4 separate regions of the Homo sapiens genome follow, and all the other regions are linked to region 1. The links come from fine-mapping of genetic effects on gene expression. A gene starts in region 1. Each other region holds a variant in brackets. All regions are shown on one strand. Distances are from middle to middle.

Region 1 (5,000 bases):
CAATGTTTTAATAACTTTTCTGCAAATTGTCATCATTTGTTTTACAAGAAGATAGTTTAAAGTATATTTTATAAAATAAGTCTGAGGGAAATTAAAATTATGCCAAAGCCTCTTTTGCCAGGATTAACAGTTCACTCTTACATTTTGGGTCTATAGATATGCAGGATGGAGGTTGGGCCTGGTGGCTCATGCCTGTAATCCTAGCGCTTTGGGAGGCCAAAGTGGGAGGAATGATTGAAGCCAGGAGGTCGAGACCAGCCTGAGCAACATAGCAAGACTCCAACTCTAAAAAAAAAAATTAGCTGGGCATGGTGGCATGCGCCTGTAATCCCAACTACTCAAAAAGCTGGAACAGGAGGATCTCTTGAGCCCAGGAGTTCAAGGCTACAGTGAGCCATGATTGTGCCACTGCACTCCATCCTGGGTGACAGAGCAAGACTCTGTCTCCTAAAGAAAAAAAAATTACCTAAATTCTAATATAGGTCTGTTCTGAATCACAGCTCCACTCTATAAGTTCAGTTTGGCAAGCGGCCAAGAACACAGTTGTGAGTGGCACCCACACCAGGGTTCTAATCCTGGCTTTACACTTAAGAGCTCTGTGAGCTTGGGAACCAAGCAGGGTGACCCTGAACCTCAGCTTTGTCATAGGGAAATGAGGACTGTAATCCCAGTCCCATAAAGATGCAGGGAGGATTTCATCAAAGGAATTCATAATAAAATGTCTGGCACATTGTAAGTTCTAAAAACCTGCAGATGTTACCATTCCCTCCTAGTACTATCATGTCTTATATGTGCATAGTGACTCATACTCCACAAGGTGCTTTCAGATCTTTTGCCTCATTTAATCCTCAGGCAATGCGATCAGTACAAAAGGCAGTAATTACTACCCCCATTTTTCTTTTATCTTTTTTGTAAACAGATGAGAAAACAGGCTCAAAGTCAAAGAGCCCGAAAAGCGGGTATCTTGTCCACGGTTCTTTTTGCTCTGTGGCACAGAACTGAACCTCAGAGGACTTCATGTACCATGCCGAGCACAGGAGAACTACATGTGTTTTTAAATGCCCTACTATTCCTGCATTAATCAAATCAAACTGGTATTCTCACATTACTCCCAATTATTTAGATTTTGCCTAGGAAAAATAGCAACTAAGGTTTTTTGAGAGTGCACTGGGTATTTCAGGCATTGGGCGAGGTGCTTCACTTCCACCATCACAGTTAAACCGCATAACAACCCTATGAAGCAGGTACTGTCATAGTCTCCTGCATGTCCAGGATTGACATGCAGGCAGACTGTCTCCAAACCCCAGTTCCTATGGTCCTAGTGCTGTCCAATTCAAATTTGTCCAGTTGATGATAACACTTTGCAAATTGATTTCCCATACAACAAACCTAACGACACATGGAGGCCAGGCTATGAGTGTTCTCCTTTACATTTCAGGAGACTGAGGCTCTGAGAGGTTAAGCGACTGACCCAGCCCTGTCCTCACCCAGCAAGAACACAAGGCAGCACTCCCTAACTCCAAATCTCACTGTCTTTGGAAAACCTCACATTTTAAGAGTGAGAAGGTAGAAGTCCTGTCATTGTTGAAAAACAACCATCCACAATCATCACTAAGAGTTGACAGCGAGACCCGCGCTCCAGGCGGTGGAAACCGAGCAGTCTCCGGCTTGGGCCATCCCCGTTACTGTAGCCAAGTAGGAAGTGGGCGGTGACACTGATTTCAGAGCAGCCCCTAGGGAAGGCACAGGCACCAGTTCCTGGTCCCGCTCCCAGCCTCCTCCCTCCAGGTCCCCGAAGGGGTGGAACCCGAGATCCAGCTGGGTCTTGGGGTTAAGGCGGGCGGGACGTCCCCTGTCCCGAGGGGGCGCAGGCTGGGGCGCACCGCAACGAGAGTGCAGGCGGCGCAGGTGTCCCAGGACGGGGACGGATCCAAACCCCAAGCACGCCTCTGCAACCTTTCCCGGTCACCTGGACACGCAGCGGGGGCGCGGGTCAGACTCCTACAGTTTCGCAAACTGCGGGTCCCGGGGATCGCTGCACAGTCCTGGGTCAGGGACCTGGCCCGGCTCGGCGCTGGTGCCGGGCTGGCAGCCCAAGACTCGCTCTTCTCTCAACCTCGCACGCCTCGCGTCCTGCCTCAGTTTCCCTCACCTCGAAAGGGGTTGTTAACAGAGGCACGCCCTGACCTACGCGACTTCCTGGGGGCCAGAGCGCGCCCTCCTTGCCAGGACCCCCCCAGGACGTGCTAGGACTCTGTGGCAGCTCCCCTACCTGCGCGGTGGCTCACGCCGCCGCCGCCGGCGGCGGCTGGGGCGCCCTGAGGACCCCCGCCTGGCATGCGCCCCGCTGCCAGCTCCTCCCGCTCCGCCTGGGCTGCCTCCTGCTCCTTCCCCGAGGCCAGAGGCGGGGGGAAGGGAGCAGCGCGCTGGACGGGAAGTGGGGAGGGGGCTGGCGACGAAGGGGGCGGCTCCTTTCTTCTCCTCAGCGAGTCCGCTGTTTCCTTTCCAGCATTGGCCCCTGACGCGCGCGCGCGCGCGCACACACACACACACAGACATACACACACACGCTGCTGGAGCGGGCGGGGCCAGCGGCCCTCACAGCCTGTCTCCGGGATCTCAGGACCTCAGAAAGTTTGCTTTCACTCTGACTCATTTCTGGAAGAAACAAGAGGGGAAGTGCAGGAAGCCTCCAGGATGGGGTACAGGAGGGCGCCTTCCAGACGCATGATTTAAGAAGTGACCACACAGTGATGGAGAAGATGGAGGGATGTGAGGGGCTCATTTATACAAAGTGGGGGCGGGGGGGAGGAGTGGGGATAACTGATGACCCTGGAAAGAGATGAGTGGGAGCAGATGTTTAGAAATGAGATAGGATTCCAACTTCTAGCATCTTCCAGCAGCTCCGGGCTGGTTCCAGGACACAGAAGTCCATGCAAGCTCCTAGGCAACTGACTCCCCCCTTCACCCCTTCTCTTTGGTTCATTCAAGGAAGCTACTGGAGCACCCCCTAGGTAGCACCTGCTATAGGACAATGGGTACAAGGAAGGGCTACACATGAGCTCTTTGCCCTTAAGCAGCTCACCTCCAGGCTAGAAGGAGAGCACGTGCATAGAAAACGAAATCACAACATGAGATAGAATGTGCCATGTGCCAGAGGCTTGGCACAAAACCTCTTGCAATGGTTCAGGGATAGGAGGGAGAACTGTGAAGAAGAAGGGTTGGGGAGACGTTCTGCAGGAATGGGAAGGATCTCCTTAGAACGAGAGGAGTTAGAACTAGAGGAAGGCTGAGGTCCTTCAAAAGCTGAAGATCTTAAGACTGAAAGCACACAGTTGTACTTAAAATCAGTGTGTTTGCCCGGCATGGTAGTGCACTCCTGTAGTCCCAGCTACTCGGCAGGCTTAGGTGGGAGGATTGCTTGAGTCCAGGAGTTCAAGGCTTCAGTGAGCTATGATGGGGCCACTGCACTCCAGCCCAGGTGACAGAGAGAGACCCCCCACACCCCCACCACATCTCTAAAAATAAATAAATGTATGAATATCTAAGGCCAGGCACTTTGGGAGGCCAAGGTGGAAGTTCACTTGAGTCCAGAAGTTTGAGATCAGCCTGGGCAACATAATAAGAACCTCTTTTTTTTTTTTAACTTTTAAGTTCAGTTTGTTACATAGGTAAACTTGTGTCATGGGTGTTTGTTGTACAGAGTATTTTGTCACCCAGGTATTAAGCCTAGTGCTCATTAGTTGTTTTTCTTGATCCTCGCCCTTCTCCTACCCTCCGCCCTCCAAAAGGCACCAGTGTGTGCTGTTCCCCTCTATGCGTCCATGTGTTCTCATCATTTATCTCCCACTTATAAGTGAGAACATGCAGTGTTTGGTTTTCTGTTCTTGTGTTAGTTTGCTAAGAATAATGGCCTCCAGCTCCATCCATGTCCCTGCAAAAGACATGATCTCATTCTTTTTTATGGCTGCATAGTATTCTATGGTATATATGTACCATATTTTTTTATCCAGCCTATCATTGATGGGCATTTAGATTGATTCCATATATTTGCCGTTGTGAATAGTGCTGCAGTGAACATGTGTGTGCATGTGTCTTTATAATAGAATTATTTATATTCCTTTGGGTGTATACCCAGTCATACGATTGTTGGGTCAAACAATATTTCTGTCTTTGGGTCTTTGAGGAATCACCACACTGTCTTCCACAATAGCTGAACTAATTTACACTCCCACCAACAGTGTAAAAGTGTTCCTTTTTCTCCACAACTTCTCCAGCATCTGTTATTTTTTGACTTTTTAGTAATACCCATTCTGACCGGTGTTAGGTGGTATTTCATTGTGGTTTTGATTTGCATTTATCTGATAATCAGTGATGTTGAGCTTTTTTTATATGAATGTTGTCCACATATATGTCTTCTTTTGAAAAGTGTCTGTTCATGTCCCTTGCTCACTTTTTAATGGGGTTGTTTGGTTTTTTCTTGTAAATATAAGTTCCTTATAAGATGCTGGATATTAGATCTTTGTTAGATCACAGTTTGCAAAATTGTTTTCCCATTCTGTAGGTTGTCTGTTTACTCTGTTGATAGTTTCTTTTGCTGTTCAGAAGCTCTTTAGTTTAATTAGATCCCAGTTGTCAATTTTTGCTTTTGGCATCTTTGTCGTGAAATCTTTGCCCATGCCTATGTCCTGAATGGTATTGCCTAGGTTGTCTTGCAGGGATTTTATAGTTTTGGGTTTTACAATTAAGTCTTTAATACATCTTTAGTTAACTTTGTATAAACTGTAAGGTAGAGGTCCAGTTTCAATCTTCTGCATATGACTAGCCAGTTATCCCATCACCATTTAGGAAATTCTTTACCCATTGCTTGTCAAAACCCTTTCTATAAAGAAAAAAAAAATTAATTAGCCAGCACAGTGGCCTGTACCTGTAGTCCCAGCTACTTGGGAGGCTGAAGCAGGAGGATCACTCTAGCTCAGGAGGTCGAGGCTGCACTGAGC
Region 2 (5,202 bases), 23 kb after region 1:
ATTCTGTTATAGGGGCTCCTCACTTTAAGGAAATCTGATATTCAAAATCCAAACTGAAGTAGGAATAACAGCTTGTTCATTGAGCAGCTACTGTGCACCTTGGCATCACACCAGGAGTTTTCTAAACATGACCTCACAACTGCACAATTCTGCCAGGCGAAATTATTAGCCATATTCCCAAGCCAGGCACTATGAGCTGAGTTGTGACTTCCAAAATTCAAGTGCTGAAGCCCTAAGCCCCAGTGCTTCTGAATGTGACCGTATTTAGAAATAGGATCTTTAAGGAGGCAATTGGGTTAAAATGAGGTCATTAAGGGTGGACCCTAATCTAATATGATTGATATTCGTATACGAAGAGGAGATGAGGCCACAGACACAGGACACAGACACACCCTGAGGGGTGACCACGTGAGGGCACATCAAGACAGCAGCTGCCTGCAAACCAAGAGAAGCAGTCTCATAGGAAACCAACCCAGCCAACACGTTGATCTCAGACTTCCAGCCTCCAGAACTGTGAGACAATACATTTCTGCTGTTTAAGCCACAGTCTGTGGTACTTTGCTATGGCAGTCCTAGCAAACTAATGCACCAAGGAATCGAGTCTGAAAGTCTAGTTTTTGTCCAAAATCACGAAGACTGTGTCAGAGCTAAAAATGCAGTCTGTGCTACTGCAAAACTTACACAACAGAAGGGCCCTCTCCTGTACCAGAAGGTTTGCTCCAGGCTTCTGAGTATCAGCTACACTGTTTCATCAAAACACAATTCATTTGACAAAAGCCACTTGCCCTTCTGGCAAAAGAGATCTCAAGCAAAGAAAATTCTACTGATTTCACTCATGCCCCCTTGTAGATGGTGATGTTTCTATAATGAAGCATTTAAAGATTCTGATCCCATGTCAGAAAATCTGGATGGACTGTTATATATGAGAGAAAAACTACGTTTGCATATCGATCAATGAATGAAAACAACCTGAGAAATGGAAACCATTTGATTTGGTGAAGTAGGAGCAAATGAAGTAAATTTTTAAGTAATGTTTATTTCCCATGTTATATAAGGTTATCTGAAAAACAAACATTTAAAATTTTTCCTTTTAAACTTTTTTCACATTCATATTTAATACACCTTTTGCACTAATTGCCAGAAATTAACACCCCTCAAAACGTGTGTGTGTGTGTGTGTGTGTGTGTGTGTATGTATATTTTAGATTGAGTCTCACTTTGTCGCCCAGGCTGGAGTGCAGTGGCGAGATCTCTGCTCACTGCAACCTCTGCCTCCCCAGTTCAAGCAATTCTCCTGCTTCAGCCCCCCGAATAGCTGGGATTACAGGCGTGCACCACCATCCCTGGCTAATTTTTTGTATTTTTAGTAGAGATGGGGTTTCACCATGTTGGCCAGGCTGGTCTCGAACTCCTGACCTCAGGTGATCTGCCAGCCTTGGCCTCCCAAAGTGCTAGGATTACAGGCATGAGCCACCTTGCCCGGCTCTATTTATATATTAAAAAGACCTTTATAAATTTAAAAACTTAAAATATATATTATAAAAGTATCATACACATGTGACAATAAAAATTCAAATAGAATTTTAAAAATTCAAATAGGACTGAAGGGAACAAACTAAAATATAAGTGGTTGCCCAAGAACCATCTTTAAGCATCTCTGGGTTTTAGTTCTTGCAATGATTACTTCTCTTTGTGACACTGTGTTATTTTGATCTTGACATTTTTAAAGAAAACATGGATTGACAGATACAAATGTCTTTGCATATGTCAAAATACTTTTAAAAATAAATAAAGGGGAAAAGAGCCTCTCAGAAATGGCCACTAGGTGGTAGAAGTTGACTAAAAACTGCTTTATTCGGTAGAGCCATCTCGATTGCTGCCCGCGACTTTTTTCCTCTAGGGAGAAGGGATTTCTTCAGGGTCTTCTCCTGAGATATCCAACATCTCCTCCTCGAGCCCCTTTGCTTAGAATGCCCTGTAGCCATTTTAGACTGCACACAAATGGAGATAACACAAGCAACTTCTCACCTTCCAGAGGGCAGGACAAGATGAAGAAGGAAGATCTTCAAAAGTGAAAGGTTAAGAAAGACAAGTACACACCCATACACACACCAGTCCTACCAAGGCAATGGTGACAGCAGGAAGAGATGGCTGCTCTTCCTCCAGAGCAGCTGTGATGCAGACCCACCTGTCACCCAAGAAGGAGAAAAGTGAACAACAGCTTCTGCCCTAGTGGAGCCTGAATTAACTCATAAGTCGAAATCCCCAGAATCTCTTTGCGCTTTGGTCTGTGCTATTGTACTTAACACACGCTCAATAAAGACTTATTGATTTGACTTAATCTCAAAACCACATTTCTAAAGCACCAAAGGACTATCTTTTGATTCATTAGATGTTTCTTGAGCTCACACAAGTGCCTAAACAACAGGGGAAAAGGTCGTAAAGATAAATAAAATAAAAGCCTTCTGTATTTTTTTTTTTTTTTTTTTTTTTTTTTGAGACGGAGTCTCACTCTGTCACCCAAGCTGGAGTGCGGTGGCGCAATCTCGGCTCGCTGCAAGCTCCGCCTCCCGGGTTCACGCCATTCTCCTGCTTCAGCCTCCCGAGTAGCTGGGACTACAGGAGCCCGCCACCACGCCCGGCTAATTTTTTGTATTTTTAATAGAGACAGGGTTTCACCGTGTTAGCCAGGATGGTCTCGATCTCCTGACCTCCTGATCCGCCCGCCTCGGCCTCCCAAAGTGCTGGGATTACAGGCGTGAGTCACCACGCCCGGCCAGGCTTCTGTATATTTTTCTATATGGCCAAAATGTTTAATGATTCTAAAAACTGAGAACAAACACAAGCAAACAAGTCAAAGGAAGAAAATGTTTAAATAAGAAAAATAAATGGGCCGGGCGTGGTGGCTCACGCCTT[T/A]ATCCCAGCACTTTGAGAGGCCGAGATGGTCGGACTGCTTGAGGTCAGGAGTGCTTGAGGAGGTCAGCCTGGCCAACATGGTGGAACCCCTGTCTCTACTAAAAATACAAAAATTAGCTGGGCATGATTAGCACCTGTAATCCCAGTTACTCAGGAGGCTGAGGCAGGAGAATCGCTTGCACCCGGGAGGCGGAGCCTGGGTGACAGAGCTAGACTTCGTCTCAAAAAAAAAAAAAGAAAAGAAAAGAAAAGAAAAATAAATATCAATAACCCCTTCACACAAGAATTTTATTCCTACAAATTTATCCTTAGAAAATATGTCAATAGAGGCAAAAACTACAAAAGTGAAACTATAAATCTAAATAGCCAATGATTAATAGTTAATTGTAACATTAGTTTACTAGATCATTATCTATCCTTACAATCATTTTGAAGACTATGAAAAAATGAGTCATGCATAATAAGTTTACAGGTTTTTTTAGACATGAATATAACTAAGTTCACTAAAAGGCAAGCAGACTAAGCAGAATAATGTGTCTTCATAACAGTATGCCGATAGTAAGATCCAGAAATTGACTGAAGCACTGTGTTTTCATAAGAAGTACTAAGGATTCAATCTCCCAGCCCATGGCCCACAAATGTGATATGGTTTCACGCCATGGTTATCTTTTGTTTATTATCTTTGTTCTACAGTTGCCATAGCAGTAAAATTTATTTTCAATAGAATTATTAAAGTTTTCTTTGCTAACTAAAGCTTATTTTTGTTTTGCAACCATTAGCAATGTAAATTTACTCCCAACTATGCCAAACACAATGTTTACATTTTGTATCAAATTTTAAGCCTGTAATAAAATGTAGGTATTTATAACCATATAAATGTCCTTCTTCTTGGGCAAGATGAGGGGTTTATTTACCATGGCAGGGTCCAGGTTCTTTTGGCAGTCGTGGGATAGACTATGCCATCCCAAGGATAAAATCAGCTATTTATGCCAATGTTTACATGGGAGAATGAGTGACACTTAAATTCATGCTCTTAAAAAAAAGAAAAAGTGATCCACTTCTGGATGTTATTTGCGTAGATTTTGGCAAGGAAAAACTGAGCTTCCTTGGGCTAGGTCCAGAACCTGCAATCCCAGGACCTCTGCGAAGACCTAAGGGCAGCAGAGGTTGATTAAGCCCAGCAGAGAGATCTATTTCCTGGCTGATTCACAGACATAGCCTTCTAAGTCCTACAAAGTCTCACAGTGTGCAGAGGAGGAAAAGGAGACAAGTTCTGTTGAGAAGAAAGCTAAGGGGTTCTCCATACCTTTCCCATTAGGCTGGAGGACTGACATTGACATCATTAGACCAGCAACTTTATGACCACTGAGTTCCCAAATCTTTAACTTCAGCCTATACATTTCCCCCTAAACGCTTTTTGCTCTAAAATCAAGAGAAATGTATATAATGTGTCTGATTCAGTGGTGCTTTCATATATATGCCATATGTATTATATATATTTCTCAAATATGTATGGGTACATACATTTGTGTACATATTATATATTCATATTTATATAAAAGCTATTTAACTGCTTTAAAAGGATGAGATAGCCCACCAGAAGTTTTGTGATTATGATAAGTGGAATTAAGTCAAACTTTGGTCTTTCAAAATAATAGACAATCAATAACCTGAAATTAATAACTTTTCATTTACACCTATACCAAAATAACATATTCATAAATATAATGAAAAAGACAAGAATGTATAAACTGTGTGTGTATATGTGTACATACGTGTGTGTTTGCATGCACACCCACTAAGAATATGTAAACTGGGTGGGAAATTAGTCTTATAAGAAAAAAATTTTTTAATTTGAAGGAAAATGTAAACTCAAAAAACAATACATATTATTATTATACATTCCCTCTGATAAAGCCTAGAAATCAGTTTAATAAAGGAATATATTGAAAGAGATGTTTAGTACAGTATTTTAAAGCTTGTTTAAGACAGCAAATTCTTTGCAAATGGGAATTAGAAGCTAGGTGCCTATTTCCAGGAAAGAGAGTTCTGTATTGAAAAAAACAAAGGACGTATGTGCAAATAAATAATCACTTCCATTAAATTGAGGGGTCAGAGACCAGCTTGGCAGCTGCAACAAAGAAAAATTTGTCATCAAAACTCTTTGGCCCTTCATTCCTAAAATAAATTTGGAGCTAATTAGCTTTCAAGACTTTTCCGGGTTTTTTTCCACAGTGACAAGACAAAGAAACAGACTTAAGATAAAAACCAGATGTCAAAGTTTACT
Region 3 (5,202 bases), 400 kb before region 1:
CAGATATGCCACCAAGTACCTGTGGTATCTAAGAAAATTAGCAGATTCATTATAACAACGTCGCAGGGATGAACATCCTAACATCTTTAAAACACCTTTGGAACCCAAGGCCATTCTGTACCTCCTTGGAATAGACTATCCACATGGTAGGTAAGCATGTAACTTGTTAAAATGTCTGTGTTTGCAATTAGCAAAGGAGTAAGACAGCAGGACAGGTGCATTCAGGAATAGATGATAAGGCAATATTGTCATTTGGGGTACCATTTGCAAAAGATCCTGGAATTCTTTAGATGGAGTCTTCTGTTTTTATAAGAAAACAATTGAGTGTTTTACTGTTAATGAAGTGTCCAAGTAAGCATTTCAATGGCTTAGTCAAATTTAGGTCTTCGGTTCATCTGACCTAGTTTGATTCAAAAAGAAACAATAGAACAAGTTGAGCATCCCAAATCCCCAAATCCAAAATCTGAAATGCTCCAGAATCCAAAACCTTCTGAGCACTGACGTGATGTTCAAAGGAAATGCTCATTGGAACATTTCAGATTTGGGATTTTTGGATTTGGTATGCTCCACTGGTAAGTATAATGCAAATATTCCACAATCTGAAAAAAAGCAGAACTTCAAAACACTTCTAGTCCCAAGCATTTCAGATAAGGGACTCTCTTATCCTTTGAAAGTGCTACTCTTTTGCTACATTATTTCTTCTTACCACCATTCCTTCCTGGGTAGCCACTACAGCCCATAGTGCTGGAGAATTTGGTACTGGAGATCCTCATGGAAAAGCCATGAGGATCACAGTCTTTCAAGAGCAAAGAGGAAAACCTTGACTATACCCAAGATTGATTCAAAGGATTTGATGCTTGTACACAGAAACTCTGTGTTGCCTACCTTGTGCCAAGCCCACCTCGTGCTCAGCCAGCAGCAGGACAGCCCTGTGTCTACGCCCTTGCCCTCCCCCACCCACTGTGGGGCTCCAACTCTTCCCCGTCCCACTCCAAAGCCAAGTGAGAGCCTAAGGAAAGAACTGTGACTACTATATCTGCACCAGCCCATCACACACAAAGCTTTAGATACTGTCATCTTAGGCTCTGGGTTTTCTTTCTTTCCTTTCCTTTTCTTTCTTTCCTTTCCTTTCCTTTCTTTCTTTCCTTCCCTTTTGCTCCCTTCCCTTCTCCCTTCCCTTCTCCTTTCCCTTTTCCCTTCTCCTTTCCCTTGTCTCTTCTCCCTTCCCTTCTTCCCTTCTCTTCCTTTCCCTTCTCCTTTCCCTCTCCCTTCCCTTTCCTTTTCTTTCCTCTTTTCCTTTTCCTTTCCTTTTCTCTCCTTCCCTCTCTCCTTCCTTCCTTCCTCTTTTCTTTCTTTTTCTTTCTTTATCTTTCTTTCTCCTTCCTTCCTTCCTCTCTTTCTCTCTCTCTTTCTCCCTTCCTTCCTTCCTCTCTCTCTGTCTCTCCTTTCTCCCTTCCTTCCTTCCTGTTCTCTCTCTCTCTCTCCTCTCTCCCTCCTTCCTTCCTTCCTTCCCTCCCTCCTTCTTTGGCAGTGTCTTACTTTGTTGCCCAGGCTGGAGTGTAGTAGTGTGCAGTCTCAGCTCACTGCGACCTCCACCTCCTGGGTTCAAGCAATTCTCACGCCTCTGGAGTAGCTGGGACTACAGGTGTGCACCATCACGCCCAGTTAATTTTTGTATTTTTAATAGAGACAGGGTTTTGCCATGTTGCCTAGGCTGGTCTCAAACTCCTGGTCTCAAACAATCCATCCACCTCAGCCTCCCAAAGTGCCGGGATTAAGATGTAAGCCACCGCACCTGGCCAGGCTCTGGATTTTCTTATCTATAAACTACATGAGTGGAGCTCCATGATCCTCATGATCCCTCTTCCAGCCCCTCAGCTCTAGAAGTGGAAAACATCTCCAAGGAGGCAGGACAGTCTCCCAAAACTCTCGTTACCTTTGTCTGTTCACGCTAAAATTTGGAAAGTTGAACTAAACAAGGGTCCTACGGAGCTGTGGTATTTGTGCACAAACCTGGATGTATTTAGAGCATGCCCTCAAGCACCACCAAAACTAAACAATTGGGCACCATGCACTCCAAATAA[C/G]CAGAGAAACAGAATTCCATAAGGGCTTCCCAGACATGGATGTAAATACAACCACAAATAGAATCAGAGTGTCTCTACCTCGTCTATGACTGAGGGCCAGGCAGAACTGCCCTGAGGGCTTTGAAATATGCCAAAAATGTACATATCACAGGTGTACTTCTTTTCCTTTGAAAGTGTGTTGTAGAAATTGAAGGAGGAAGAAAATGAGAAAATTCCTGCTTAAAAATCCACCTTAATTTGGAAGGCTTTTGGTTACAATATTTTGAGCGTGGAGGAGACCTTGCACACAGTCAAAATGTTTTTCAAAACATACTGCTAATTAGGACCCCAGATGACTGTGAAAATGCACTAGAGACTCACACTAATGCTCCTGGAAGTCCCGACTTGACTGGCCGTGAAGTCACACCTCCTGTCCCCTTCTCAGGCACTAGGCGTGAGCCACCTCTCCACCACCAGCTCTCCCAATTAATGGTGCAGACTGTTTTCAGACACTCGCTGCCACAGTAGCTGATGGGTTTGTGTTGTTCTTTGGTCATGCTACATGTAATTTGGTGAGCCTGTCAGGACGATGAAGAGGCAAAGGCTCTTTCCTCTCCCTCCTTGGATTGGTCAATCAGTGTCTTCTTAATAAAAGTAGGAGACACCCATGAGGCTGCCCATAACTCGGATATTAAATCAGGAGGCCACAAGGACCTATTTGGAAACTCAGTCCCACTGCCCACCCCTAACCTCTGTTGATGCCACACTAATAGCCCTTATGTACACACATGGTTTATGCAAAAACTGAGTGTTTTCCACACAAAGAATAAACATCCATGGTAGCATCTGTGGCTTGAATCTTTCAGACGTGGACGTCCAATGTGGGCTTACATTAATCACATTCCAATGTGGACTTAGATTAATTGGGTACCTCACATGCACAGTAGGCTCTGGCAGCATGCTTAATGGAATCAAACAAAACACTGCACTCACTGTGCAATCCTTCTGTATTGTTGACAACAAGCTGTTTCTTTCAGCCACACTCAGCATTGTATCTTTGATCAAACATGGAAATACAAACCAGTCAGAGTTTGGCTGGAGGATTCTGGCAGCCTCTCTGAATCTCTAGATAAGCTCTAATTTGAAACAACGGCTTTGGTTTGTGTAGGGGAGCCTCCGTAGAGCCTTGTAAACATGTCTTTCTATCTTAGGGCATAATGTTCCACTCAAATTTAAGTGCTGCTTTGTATGAATTCAAAGACACCTTCTGTGTATTTATTCTCAATCAGTGACAGAAGACTGGGATTCGAAGAAAAGTCTGGGTTGAAATCCATATCGTGGTGTAGATTTTATTGGAGGGAGGGAGAGAGCTGACTTCAGTACCTAAACCAGTGCTTCTCCGCTTATCACAACAGAGATCAGTGAAATTCTCAAAAAACATAACATCAGTGAAATACTTTTATTATAGCTTAAAAATTTAAAGTAATTGTGTGTTCCATGGAACAGACCTGTCCATTTACTTATAGGCAATGGCTGCTTTCTGATGGGCCTAATAGGACCATGGGGCTTGTGGCTGAAAAGTTCTGCTACTCATCAGAAATGACCTTGTGTCAGCCAAGTTGTTCCCAAGCCTTGTTTTTTTCGACTGTCAAGTAGGGATAATAATCCCTATCCATTTATAGAAGTTTTATTATAATTAAATGACTTTTCATCTAAGCCACTGTGGAGTTACTGATTGATTCCTTCAAGCATTTATTACAAAATAGTTGAATCAATCTACCTTGAAACTTTTTGTGTATAAATGGGATGTTCTTGGAGCTTGTGACTAATATACTAAGAACTGTGAGACAAATGGACTTGGATAACACTTTTCTACCTAAAATCATGCACTTACCCATGGCTATATTAAATGTACATTATGAATATAGCCTTATTTAACCCCCATAAAAACCTTAGAGGTGTATGTTATCCTGACATTACAGATGGGAACCCTAATGCTTAAAGAGGCATTATCACTTGTCCATGATCCCGCTGCTATTAAATCTGGCTTGGATCAGCTGTGGAAAAACTAAAAGGATCTTGTTTAAATACTGCTTAACCCCTTGTTTTTCAGGGGTCTTTACTAGAGCTGCCTCCCCAGCTCTAGTAAAAATAAGATCCAATTCCCCAGAATCAAACTAACCTTTTAGAAAATTTCACAATAAGAGACCAGTACAGAACCCTGACTGCAGCCCTCAGAACTGCTACCTGAAGACAGAGGTACAACCCACTTAGGAACTGCCCATCTGCTGAGCTGGGGAACGGGAACCCCTTCATATCCATTGACTCTCTGCAGCGGACTCCTCCTCTGTGCCCCATCACCTGCCCATTTGCTGGAAGCCATACCCCCTTACACGTGCTCAAAGATTTGTGATCCCATGAACATGGAATAAATAAAAACGCCATCCTTATTCTATGTTTGTATGCTTCTTTGGGAAACTTTCTGATAATAGCTTAAATACAAGATTTTTAAGAGGCAGGAAATTATGAAGAACAGAATATCTGCTTTTCAAAATCTACCTAAAGCAATGTGAAAATCATTGCAGATTAAGTTGAAGAAATTTTCTGCCCAGCTTAATAAACAAGGTCAAAAATGTAAAGTTATAACAAGGAAGGAAGTGTAGCATTGGCTCTATCATTAAATCACAGATCTGAGTATTTATGACTAAGATTAATCCTTGGCCATTCAAAGCTACTTATACACACACACACACACACACACACACACACACACACAGCCCATAAAGTATGGTAAAAACTGGAATTCTAAAAAGTAAGACAGCAATGACAAGCAAAGACCAAAATAGCTAAATTTGCCACAAACGCATCTAATAAAAGACATTCTACTGAATAGAAAGATGAATGAATAGGGAAGTGTTTTTAGCTAGAGAAGTGTCAACTTGTGATTAAATAACTGAAAGGATATAGGGCTGCATATCCCTTCATCCACTGGGTACCCACCCATTTGCTCTCAGCAGAACTAACCAGTGACAAACTGCGTCCACAGATCAACACAGAATGGAGTGCTTCATACGGATGCATACCTAAGCCAGTATGTTCTCAGGCCATCTTGCTCACTAGCAGCTAGTTTTGATGAAGG
Region 4 (5,202 bases), 170 kb before region 1:
TGACTCAAAAAAAAAAAAAAACCAAGATCCTTTCCATTCAATAGGGCTTTTAAGAATCTTACCTAATGGAGTGAGGGTTTGCCCATTCTGAAGGTATTGAAACAGGAGAAAACAGAAATAGCATTATATGCAGGAGTTGCAAACAAATGTTGACCACCTTAACACTAGTATCACCTATGGGGACAGCCCATTGACTGAAAGGCCGGTCCACCAAAGAGCATACAGAGCAACCAGAAAATAGTGAGGTCAAAAGGTCAGTTACCAGGAGGGTTAATTCAGGTCATCCTTCAGCAGATCAGGCCTCACCAATTTTCTCAGCTGACCAAAGAGCTAAAACAGGAAACCTGCGCCATACGCAATATACCATCTTGGGCATTTTCCCTGGAGTCTGAAGAGAGATTGTTCACATTGGAGTGAGGCTATCTCTGCTGCCTGAATTATACATTTCTTCCCTTGGGCTTAACACAGACTCATCCACCGGTATTCCTGGGAAAGATATATTGATTAAGAAAGGCAAAAACCCTAACTCAGAAGCAAGACTGTGTTCAATCTTCTTTTTTTTTCTCTCAGCAAATGGGCCCATAATTTCAAGTAAATGGCATGTGAAGCTGTTAAGAGCCAAGCCCCACATTTGCGCTGCCATGTTCTACTGGTTGTAAATAATACGCGTGACTGCACCAGGGACCAAATTGCTCTTTAGCTGCCAACATTAGTTGTTTAATGATCTGAGGAGCAGAAGCTGCCAATTATTGTATTCCTTCTTAAAATACCATTTAAAACACATACATGTAATTATTATAACTTTTTGTTAAATTTTTATGATTCTTTTGAAGCTGATGAGCTCTGGGTCCATTCAACCTATAAAACTCAGAGAACTTTTTGAAGCTGTCATTACATAACTGGGTTAAAAATCCATATATAATACACCGAGAGAGGGCCTGGACTTTAGCCCCAGATCTGCCACTGCTTAGCTAATTGAGTGACCTTAACCAAAGGACACATCCCGCAGCCTCAACCTCCCCATCAGTCCATTCGGATCACGGTCTCTCTCCCATCTACCTAATATAGCAATTGTGAAAATAAAATAACAAATCCAGAGGAGTGTTTGAAAGCACTAATGATAGGATAAGATACTGTTTTCAGAGACTCTTGACTTCAAGCTACTAATTAATGGAAAAATCAATTCCTTAATAACTGCCAGAGTAAGAGGGAGCATAATCCTTTGAGGATTCGCCAAGTTTCTATGACTAGATTTTCAAACTGAGGACATTAATTTGTCTCATGTTACCATCCTTCCCTCTATAGAAAGGGTCTGATCACACCCAATAATCCTCATTCAGTATTTACAGATACACAATGCTACATACACATCTGCTAGAATCATATGGCACACAGAGTACATTTAGTCTCTAAACTCTTCAAGAAACAGGAACTAGAAATCCCAAATACGGTACTCACTTAAACACCTTGTGCTATATTATGTGCATATTAGTGAAACTTCCCAGAAAAGCTTTCAGATGTCTGAGAATGACATAATAACAGTGGAATGTTCATCGAGGACAAAACACGATGTGCTGGTAGCTGTCATTATTTTAGTTGGATAGCTTCAACGTCTCCTACACTGCCAGTTACCTGATATGGCATGCATTTTGGCTTCAAGCAAGGCTGGTAGTTGGGTTTCAATATCGTTAACTTTCTTCCTCAGGGTGCTGCAGAATTTCTCACTCATACACACCTAGGGGGAGAGAAATGACCAGGAATCATCATTTATTCAGCTAAAAATCAGAAGGCAGTGGAACAGCCAGGTCAGAGATTTCTGGGTTTGTAAGTAATTAAAAGGGGTGATGAAAAGTAATTGGAAGACAATGTTCAAAAAGCAAGCAATGGAAAAAGAAAGACAAAGAAGAGAGGGAGAAAGGGAGGAAGGGAAGAAGGGAGGAAGGGAGGAAGGGAAGGAGGGAAGGGGAAGGGGAAGGGAAGGGAAAGGAAGGGAAGGAAAGAGAAGGGAAAGAGGGAGGGAAATGTAGGAAGAAGAACAAAAATAAAGTGAGCAATGGCATATTCCAAGCATATGCCCATCATCACCCCACATCCAATTACAAAACTGATAGGAGCTAACAGAGAGCAACCACAAGGTAACATAATTGCATCACTCCTGCCTCCTGCCTTCTCCAGGCCTCTGCCGAATCCTCCTGTCTGCATCACTTTTGTAGTCCCAGGTGGTTTGGCTCACTCATACCCTTCCAGACTGCTCAGTCGCTGCCTGGGAGGAAAGGCCTTACTGATTACCCAC[C/A]CAAAATAGCAACCTCCCTTGGCCCTCCCTCCGCTTGATGTTCTTCCACAGCTTCTTCTCAGATGATACACCATGTAATTCTATTCCTTTGTTTCCACATTGTCTCTCTGCCGGGATACGAGCTCTATGTGAGCAGGGATTTTGCTCTGTGCCTGGCACATAGTACGCAGTGAATAAAGATATGGCCATTGAGATGAAGGTCAAAGCTGCAAGCTAAATTTAATTACTAGTATTAATAGACACTGTTTAGGGAAACTTTGAAGGCAGATAGATACTTGCTGGCAAGTCAGATTTGAAAAATAGACAAGTAACTCTCAGTGAGGTTTGAGAGTTTTATCATGTATTTTCCCATGACATTCCAAACACATCCTACAGTTTTTTTCTTTGGTTTTTCAAAAATAGCAAAAATCTTAAATCTTAATTTCTTTTTCCAAATGTCTTTAGGTTATCTTTTATTTTGTTGGAGGCTAAAACATCACATTTTTTTCCTTTTTTGAACCCTTTCAACAGTCTCAAGACTTTTCATATGCCAATGTTATCTAGACTCAGATTAATGAGCTACCTAGAAAAATTTAATTTCCCAGAAGAATCTAAGGTTTGTGGGACACCATCAACTTTAAATGTTTTCTTATATCAGTTTGAATTGAGATTATTTTTGGAGTCAAAGCAGACCTCATCCATCCTGCCTAAAATACTCCACTCTTTCTCTCATGGACTTCCATATGTTCTATTCAGTGGCTGTAATTTTCCAACATCTTTTTTATAAAAATCATTCTCTGGATGAAGACGACAGTTTGGTAGCCTCTAAACCAAAGCATGCACTGGTGATGTTGGGCATCCGCATGTCCAAAGTAATTAATTCCGAGACCCTTTCAACAGTCTTGAGACTTTTCAGAGTTAAAAGGAAGATATCCCTTCCCCCAGCACCAAGTCTTAGTTTGGCTCAAACCAGATGACTGGCACATCCCATCCTATCTATTTAATAATGTCATCTGAGGTCTGAGGGCATTTCCATTAACTCTGTAATACCAGCCATAATTCTTATGTCTCATCCAGTCTATGTCCAATATTTCTGATTTTAGTGAACAGTATCTGTTAATCATAATTGAGTCAGTTTCTCCTTTGTTGAGCAAATCTATCTTTCAAGCTGTCAATATTAATACTAAACAACCTTTCTGAATCTTCTTATTAAATTGCAATGTTCATTCTTTCAGGCTCTGCTGGATGTAATCTAATATCTACCAATCTCCAGATATCCCATTTATTTCCAACTGTTTCTTCCATCTCATTTATCCCTTAATTACTTTTGGTTTGGGTAACCCATAAGAGTTTAAGAAATGTAATGAGTGCAAGGAAGGTTTCATTTCTTTCTGAGACAGGAGTCTAAAGAATATCAGGTAGGGGTGTGTGTGTATGTGTGTGTGTGTGTGTGTGTGGTGTGTCTAACACACTAGAGAAAGAAAGCTATGTCAAGCTGAGACCTTGGTCTCAGCTCATGGTCACTGGTCAATCTAGTTTAAAGTACAGAGAAAGGTGTTTTGTGTGACTGGACAGTTTTGTTTTAATTCTCTGTGGACTAATATAGGCCCCTGCCCACAACACACACACACATTCGTGTCTGTGCACACACACCTATCCACCTCTGCACACACACATACACATCCCCGGAAAACCTGTGTATCCTTTTTATTTACAAATAAAATTGGACACCAAGGAACTCATTATCAAATGGGGCTTTTATGTTTACATTTTAAAATCAAAGATGTGAGTTCCTTAATTTTATGGAAAAGCGAAGTAATTATAAAGTTTTATAAATGTATTAGAGAAGGTATGTGCAATGGTTGGAGATGTTTTTTTCCCCCCAGAATTCATAGGTTGAAAGTCTAACTCCCAAGGTGATGGCATTAGGAGGTGGGGCCTTTGGGAGGTGATCAGGTCATGAAGGTGGGGCCCCCATGAAGGGGATTAGTACCCTTATAAAGAAGCCCCAGAGACCCCGCCTTGCCCTCTTTCTTCCATGCAGGAATACAACAAGAAGTCAACCGTCTGCAGCCTGTAAGAGGGCCTCTCACCAGAACTTAGCCATGCTGGAACCCTAATCCCAGACTTCCAGGCTTCAAAGTGATGGGAATTAAATTTCTGTTGTTTATAAGCCACCTCGTCTACAGTACTTTGTTATAGCAACTCAAATGGAGTAGGACTGTATGCAAACAAAACAACCCATTTTTGATATTTGGGAAAATCTAAGATCTTTAATAGTAGTTGGAAATTTTCAGCAAATCCTAATATTGGGTGCGTATCAGTATATGTGTGTATCCACAATATACAGTGTCATACACACACCCATATAAGCACCATCTGCATTATATAATAGGCACACCTGTATCCTCAACGTTGGTGTACAGATGCATTCATATTACCCATACAGTATGTTCTGAAGATAGTCAATAAACTCAGACCCAAGACAGTCCTCCCATCTTTTAATTCTACATAGAAATCAGGACGCACCTGATAAACAGCAGAAAATGTAAGAGAGGCCAGGTGCGGTGGCTCTTGCCTGCAATCCCAATTTTGACACACTGAGGCAGGAGGATCGCTTGAGCTCAGAAGTTCAAGACCAGCCTGGGCAACCTAGCAAGACCTGGTCTCTACTGAAAATCAAACAAATTTAGCTGGGCAAGGTAGCATGTGTCTGTAGTCCCAGCTACTTGGGAGGCTGAGGCAGGAGGATTACCTGAGCCCGGGAGATCAAGGCTGAGTGAGCTATGATCATGCCATTACACTCCAGCCTGGGTGAAAGAACCTTTGGGTGAGCAGAGCAGAAGTCAAGCATTTCTGGGTCCCTGGCTCCGATGCTGTCTTACGGGCACCACTTGTTCCTAACAGGAAGCTCTCTTTGTACACAAGTT

Direction of the effects. Alleles are on the strand shown, and positions count from the first base shown. SD is a standard deviation of normalised expression in the study named. Not every link is listed here.
For the expression in skeletal muscle of the gene that starts at base 2,417 in region 1, C is the high allele of the variant in region 4 and A is the other (moderate effect, 0.43 SD a copy in GTEx).

The links. PIP is the estimated chance that this variant, and not a neighbour inherited with it, causes the effect.
Region 2: its variant is fine-mapped to the expression of DISC1 in whole blood (TOPMed, PIP 0.98).
Region 3: its variant is fine-mapped to the expression of DISC1 in whole blood (TOPMed, PIP 0.96).
Region 4: its variant is fine-mapped to the expression of DISC1 in skeletal muscle (GTEx, PIP 0.92).

Annotation. Positions count from the first base shown.
Region 1 is chr1:231,624,207-231,629,206 of GRCh38, reverse strand. DISC1 (DISC1 scaffold protein) reads right to left here and starts at 2,417. Exons shown (of 13, transcript NM_018662.3): 1 at 2,273-2,417. The coding sequence starts at 2,339. All of the region lies in intron 5 of TSNAX-DISC1 (TSNAX-DISC1 readthrough (NMD candidate)), which reads right to left. RefSeq lists silencers at 698-898, 1,872-1,931, 2,262-2,521.
Region 2 is chr1:231,600,813-231,606,014 of GRCh38, reverse strand. The region is part of intron 4 of TSNAX-DISC1 (TSNAX-DISC1 readthrough (NMD candidate)); the gene reads right to left. All of the region lies in intron 1 of LINC00582 (long intergenic non-protein coding RNA 582), which reads left to right. Among named protein-coding and RNA genes, the nearest start is that of LINC00582, 8.7 kb to the left of the region's middle. The variant T/A (reference allele first, on the strand shown) is at 2,916.
Region 3 is chr1:232,027,431-232,032,632 of GRCh38, reverse strand. The region is part of intron 12 of DISC1 (DISC1 scaffold protein); the gene reads right to left. All of the region lies in intron 15 of TSNAX-DISC1 (TSNAX-DISC1 readthrough (NMD candidate)), which reads right to left. It overlaps LOC124904549 (a long non-coding RNA gene), which reads right to left. Exons shown (of 2, transcript XR_007066941.1): 1 at 1-5,202. Among named protein-coding and RNA genes, the nearest start is that of DISC1-IT1, 100 kb to the right of the region's middle. The variant C/G (reference allele first, on the strand shown) is at 2,085.
Region 4 is chr1:231,796,641-231,801,842 of GRCh38, reverse strand. DISC1 (DISC1 scaffold protein) reads right to left here. Exons shown (of 13, transcript NM_018662.3): 8 at 1,633-1,735. It overlaps TSNAX-DISC1 (TSNAX-DISC1 readthrough (NMD candidate)), which reads right to left. Exons shown (of 16, transcript NR_028393.1): 11 at 1,633-1,735. Among named protein-coding and RNA genes, the nearest start is that of DISC2, 19 kb to the left of the region's middle. The variant C/A (reference allele first, on the strand shown) is at 2,294.